Linked DNA regions of Homo sapiens. The protein of the gene in region 2 interacts with the protein of the main gene of each other region in a biochemical or structural test. Each region holds a gene or a part of one and is shown on either strand. Other genes may lie near its edges.

Region 1 (2,954 bases), on a different chromosome or scaffold from region 2:
CGGGCAGAGATAGAGCGAGCATGTGTGTGTGTGTGCGCGTGTGCAGAGGAGGGAGTGGTGTGCCTGTTTGTGTGTGCATGCATCTGTTGACACTCATGATTCTGAATGTTGCCTGGGCTGGGGGAGTACCTGTAGCACGCCAGTGCTGTTTCCCGGCCTCCAGACACAAGGCTCGAGGTTATGGCAGTGACTTTCAGCTGAGACCTGTTCCTGCAAGCCAGCTGCCTTGTCTGAACAGAACGTAGTGGTAGGACCCTAGCTGGGATTCTGGCATCTGCCTCCCTAGACCTCCTTCCCTCCCTCCTCACGTCAGGCTGTGGAGCAGGAGCACAGCAGTTCTGGCTGTTGTCCAAAGCATGGGATTCTGGAGGCAGCCAGAGCCCTGCTGAGTTCCTGCTTTCTGACCTGGAGGCTGAGCAGGCCGGAGTGGATGGATGCTGTCCAGACGTAGCCACCTGGCCTCTGTTTCTTATTTTAAAATTCTCTGCTACTGGGCTCAGTCCCAGGCCCTTCCTTGGGCTTCTGGGACTGAGCATGAGGCCATAGACAGATCTAAAAAGTTTCCACCACCCTACAGAAGTACACACAGATACCTGACTGGTGTGGGGTATGCCTGGTACTGTAATAGGAGCCTAAGACAGCACACCTACCTTTTCAGGATTTAGAACCTAAAATTAGAAAGAGAATCCCAGCTGTCATTGTTCCTTCCCCAGAAGCTAAGAGCCAGCCTCAGAGCCTACCCAGGAGCTGTGAAGGGGCAAGGGTCAAACTGACTCACTCTACCAGGAGGAGACCAGGTTGCAGTGGCGTAAGGCCCCCTGGTTTCTCTGGCCACACTCCAAGGCACCACAGTGCTGCCAGTGAGGACAGCTGACACCCAGCCAGGGAAACCATTCTAGTCTTTATTCTGTTGGCTTCCAGGGCCTGTCCTGGACTTGTCAGCATCCAGACTGCCATGTCAGCTATCCCAGTAGCTGAGCTCCAAGGACTCAGGCAGAGGGACTCAGGGATGGGGACTGCCAGGGGCAGTTGGCAAAAGTCCAAGTAGAGATTACACCCAGAACACCATTCCTTCCAGGAGCAGTAGGTGGGAGGTTTGACCCAGAGAAGCCAATCCTTGCATTCCAGGAGTGGCCTGTGCCTCCCACCTCTTCCTTCCCACTGCCAAAGGCCTGTGTTGAGAAAGATGTCATGCAAAAGGACGACGGTGGCCAACTAAAGCAAGTCTTCCTTCCACCCTGTGGCCTGCACTTGAGCCACAAAGTGTGTGTGTGTGTGTGCGTGTGTGGTACGTGTGTGTGTGTGTGGCTATGAGGCTGATTCCTGTTTGGATTTTTGTCCTCACGTGTATCATTAAGCTGGCCTTTGGGCCTTTTCCTTTCTACCTCCCCTGTGACCTTTCCTAGCCTCAGATCTGTTAATTCTTTTGGCCCCAGCCCTGTCCCTCACTGTCCTCTGTCCTTGGACCAGAACCCTGGGGTCAGACCCATCTCCTGTAGCTGTCCATCACACTGACAGGCTTCTTCCTGAGATATCCTCAGGTTTTCTCAGCCAGAGAGCTGCCTTTAGAGTCCAACTGTTGTACGTATGTCACCTTCACTAGAAATGTCCCATCATCGTGGGAGGGGAGCAGGGCACAGGGGATGGTGTGCATTCAGAGCATTGGGTTGGGGGCTTCCCTGTTCCCTCAGCCCCAGTCGAGAGGAAAGAGAATCGGGCCACTGCCAGAAAGAGAGTCAAGCAAACCTGGAAGGGCAAATCTGAGAGTGGGAAGGCCAAAGGCCGAGGCCCAGATTTAGTATTCACTAGCAGCGCCTTCGGGTAGCAGGATGATTCCTTTTCCTGCCTGTCTGCTGCTGGCTCTCTTCCCTAAGGTACAGGTTGGCAGGACCACCTCCGCCTACTTCTCCACCATCCCTAGCATGTCAGCCCGTTCCCAGATCAACCTGCCAGTGGAGTCAGGCAGTGCACTCCTGGAGCCAAGAGGGAAGGGCAGGGTAGAGAGGGTATGTCCAGTAGCCTGGAGCTCCATGGTGGCTTCATGCCTCCCTTCTCCCAGCTCAGGTGGCCCTGAGGGCTCCCTCGGAACAGTGCCTCAAATCCTGACCCAAGGGCCAGCATGGGGAAGAGATGGTTGCAGGCAAAATGCACTTTATAGAGATTTTCTATTGCTGGGAAGGTGTGTTTCTCCCACAATTTGTTTGTGAATATTCACTTGTTTTATAAATGTCTGACCTGTCTTGAGTAAGTTTGTGCTGTCGTCAATCTTGTGGGAGGCCTGGGAACCAGGGTTTTGGTAAGCCTGAGCCTGAATGAAGCTGTCGGCCACCCCATCTTGGTTCTGTGGGAGTCAGGAGCCTCCTATTCCTCCTTAGGAAGGGGGAGCAGCCAGAGCAGACTGGAGCAGCTTGGTCAAGAGTTGGTCCAGAGCTTGGTCAAGAGTTGGGGGTCAATTGGCCAAAATAGTACAGAGCACTCTGGCCCAGAGTGAGGGTCCTAAGTGCCATCCTGCAGTGCCACCCAGCCTTGCAGCCCACTTAAACCCCCTCCCAGGCTGGGGGTCAGTCAGTGCAGGGCCTGCTCCACGCCCTCAATCCATCCTTTAATTCAATGCAGCCACTTAAGCTGCAGCCTGTGGTGAGGAGGGGATGCAGGCTCTCTGGCTGTGACTAGGTGGTTGAGATCTGCCCACAGCCAAGCCTAGGGCGCCTGGATGCTGGCTTTGTCTCCTGGCCAGAGAATGGCCCCTCTCTGTGCAGTGTGCCCTGCTTCCATGCTAGGGGATGCTAGCCTTGGACTGAAAGCTTTATTAGCTCACACCCCAACTTTCTGGGAAGGGGCCCAGGCAAGGCCCAAGAATATCACAGTCTGGCCTGCACAGAGTGAAGAAGGAGAAAAGGGGAGGAACCTGCCTTGGGAACTTGTCTCATTCTTGGCTCTGCTCTGAAGCTCCT
Region 2 (3,819 bases):
AGGTAGGGGCTTGGGAAGTGCTGATTGGTCAGTTTGGAGATGGAATTATAAGGGGTCAGAGTTAGGTTTTCTTAATGTCTTCTGTTCCTAGGTGCCATGGCAGAACCAGTTGGCCCAGATTACCAGTCTGGATGGTGTCAGCTGATCCATCTAGTGCAGGGTTTGCAAAATATCTCAAGCACTGTTCTTAGGTTTTACAATAATCATGTTATTGCCAGGAGCAATTTGGGGAGGTTCAGACTCTTGGAGCCAGAGGCTTCATGACCCCCACATTGTAATTTCTAATCTTGTAGCTAGTTTGGAAGTCCTGCAAAGGCAGACTGGACCCCGGCAAGAAGGAGGGGTCTTTTTGTGAAACGGCGGTTACCAGTTTTGTTTCAGAGTCAAACCGTGAACCGAATTCCTTCCCAAAGTTAATTCGGCCTATGCCCAGGAATGAACCAGGGCAGCTTAAGGGTTAGAAGCAAGATAGGGTCGGTTAGGTCTGATTTCTTTCACGGTCATAATTTTGCAAAGTTGGTTTCATAATGACTTTTGGACTAGTTCTTCAGGAAGGGAAGGGAAGAGAAAGAATACTTTTTAATACAGCTGGGCACGTTGGCTCACGTCTGTTAATCCCAGCACTTTGGGAGGCCGAGGCAGGCAGATCACGAGGTCAAGAGATCCAGACCATCCTGGCCAACATGGTGAAAGCCCGTCTCTACTAAAAATACAAAAATTAGCTGGGCATGGTGGTGCACGCCTGTAGTCCCAGCTACTTGGGAGGCTGAGGCAGGAAAATCGTTTGAATCCGGGAGGCGGAGGTTGCAGTGAGCCGAGGTCGCACCACTGTGCTCCAGCCTGGCAACAGAGCGAGACTCTGTCTCAAAAAAAAGAAAGAACACTTGTAATACTTTCTATTTGAAGAGCATAACCACATAAGATTTCAGTTGAAATTTCATATTTTCATATTTTCTATCTATCTTTTGCATATTTGGACAGTTTCTCTAAGTTGAAATTAGGGACTGTATTCTACTTTCCTCACTGAACATTTAATCAATTTTCTTTCATTTCCTATAGTTGTTATAATTGTCTGTAACTGGACCTCTAGGTTAGTTTGCCTGTTGCTTCCTTAATATTAATTATCAGGTTGAACTAATGAACATTTAGTTACTTAGTTCCCTATAAAGCCAACATTGCATTATAGTTCTAAAGTTGGACACTTGTTTTTACCTTTTTTGCTGTGATTAAAAAAAAAATTGGCTTATAGCAGTTTGCTTGTATTAATTTCTTCCTTAGGGTACATTCTTAAGAAGTGGAAGTCCTAGGACAAAGGTCTTTGTGCTTTTTGCCATATTTTTTTTTTCCAAATGAGTTGTATGAATTTATAGTACCACCACTAATCACCAATTTTTTAACAGCTTTATTGGCATATAATTCACAATTCTCATTTAAAATGTACAATTTATTGATTTTTAGTGTATTGGTAGAGTAGTGCATGCATCACCACAATTTTAGAATGCTTTTATTATTCTAAAAAGAAACCACATACCTCTTAGCTGTTGCCCCCAAAACCTCCATCCCAGCCATCCCTCAACAACCACTAATCTATTTTCTGTCTCTGTAGATTTGCCTGTTCTGGACATTTCATATAAATGGAAATCTACCTTTTGACTTATGAATAATGCTGCTGTGCACATTTATGTACAAATTTTGTGCGGACATATGGTTTAATTTCTCTTAGGTACATACCTAGTGATCATACTCCCCATTTGAGGTAATGCCAGGCTGTTTTCCAAAGCTGCTGTGTACCACTTTACATAGCCACTAGCAGTGTCTTCTAACACTTATTTGTCTTTTTGATTATAGCCATGCTAGGGGGTGTAAACTCATTGTGGTTTTGATTTACATTTTCTTGTTGACTAATGATGTTGAGTATCTTTTTTTTTTTTTTTTTTGAGACAGGGTCTCACTCTGTCGCCCAGGCTGGAGTGGAGTGGCGTGATCCTGGCTTACTGCAGTCTGGACCTCCTGGGCTTAAACGATCTTCTCACCTCAGCCTCCCAAGTAGCTGGGACCACAGGCATACGCCATTATGCCCGGCTAATACTTTGTAATTTTTGTAGAGATGGGGTTTTGCCTGGTTGCCTAGGCTAGTCTCGAACTCATGGGCTCAAGTGTTCCTCCCACCTCAGCTTCCCAAAGTGCTGGGATTATAGGCGAGAGCCACCGTGCCTGACCTTGACTGTCTTTTCATGGTGCTTCTTGGCCATTTGTATATCTTCTTTGGAGAAATGTCTATTCAGATCCTTTGCCTATTTTTTTTTTTTTTTTTTGGAGACAAAGTCTCCTTCTTGTTGCCCAGGCTGGAGAGTGCAGTGGCATTGATCTCGGCTCACTGCAACCTCCGCCTCCCGGGTTCAGGTGATTCTCCTGCCTCAGCCTCCTGAGTAGCTGGGATTACAGGTGCCCGCCACCACATCCGGCTAATTTTTGTATTTTTAGTAGAGATGGGGTTTCACCGTGTTGGCCAGGCTGGTCGCGAACTTCTGACCTCAGGCAATCCGTCCGCTTTGGCCTCCCAAAGTGCTGGGATTACAGGTGTAAGCCACTGCACCCAGCCCCTTTGCCTATTTTCTAATTTGGGTTATTTGTCTTAATTTATTGAGTCGTAATAGTGCCCTAGTTTTATTTTACTTTTGTCACTGTGTTATGTTTTTAAATACTTGGAACTATGTTCTTACTGGTACATAACTGACAGCTATACACAAAGCAGCTTAAACCAACACCCATTTATTTGCTCCACTGTTCTGTACATTAGAGCTGTAGTTAGGGCTCAAGTGGCTTCTCTGCTTAAAATCTTAAAAGGCTGAGAGGAAAATGTCAGGAAGGCTGGGCTCTTACCTGGAGGCTCTGCAGAAGAATCCACCTCCACGCTCATTCAAGTTATTGGCTGAATTTAGTTCCTTGTGATTGTTGGACTGACATCCAGTTTCCTTATTGGCTGTCAGCAGGAGGCTGTTAGGGGGTCTTTCTGCTCTTAGAGGCTGGTTGTGATTTTTCTTTTTTGGCCCCCTCTAGCTTAGAGCCAGCAATAACACATTGAGTCCCCTTTGCATTTTGAATCTCTCTGACTTCCTCTTCTGCAATCAGCCAGAGGAAACTGCTTTAAAAGGGGCTCATATGATTAGACTAGGACCATCCAGATAATCTTTTATATGCTCAGCTGTACCATATATCATAATCATGGGCATGATATCTTATGGAATTCACAGATGCTAGGCATTAGGGTGTGGGATCTTGGAGGCCATTTTGAGAATTACGCCTGCCACAACTGCTTTTGTAGTTATTAAATGATACTCCACAGTTTCTTTCATTTGAATGGTTAGCTACCATTTCCCATGTCTGTGTGTTTTTTTTTAATTATTATTATACTTTAAGTTCTGGAGTACATGTGCAGAACATGCAGGTTTGTTACATAGATATACACGTGCCACGGTGGTTTGCTGCACCCATCAACCTGTCATCTACATTAGGTATTTCTCCTAATGCTATTCCTCCCCTAGCCCCCCAACTCCCGACAGGCACCAGCGTGTGAGGTTCCCCTCCCGGTGTCCATGTGTTCTCATTGTTCAACTCTCGCTTATGAGTGAGAACATGCGGTGTCTGGTTTTCTGTTCTTGTGTTAGTTTGCTGAGAATGATGGTTTCCAGCTTCATCCATGTCCCTGCAAAGGACATGAACTCATCCCTTTTTATGGCTGCATAGTATTCCATGGTGCATATGTGCCATGTTTTCTTTCTTTAGTCTATCATTGATGGGCATTTGGGTTGGTTCCAA

Evidence for each region.
Region 1: the proteins of FBXL3 (region 2) and CRY2 form a complex in vitro, tested with the Homo sapiens proteins (2 studies listed by BioGRID, with this or other methods).

What each region holds. Positions count from the first base shown.
Region 1 is NC_000011.10:45,881,001-45,883,954, forward strand, and holds the end of CRY2 (cryptochrome-2), read left to right. Parts: 3' UTR 1-2,244; downstream 2,245-2,954. UniProt on the Homo sapiens protein: Transcriptional repressor which forms a core component of the circadian clock.
Region 2 is NC_000013.11:77,009,841-77,013,659, reverse strand, and holds part of FBXL3 (F-box/LRR-repeat protein 3), read left to right. Parts: intron 1-3,819. UniProt on the Homo sapiens protein: Substrate-recognition component of the SCF(FBXL3) E3 ubiquitin ligase complex involved in circadian rhythm function. Plays a key role in the maintenance of both the speed and the robustness of the circadian clock oscillation.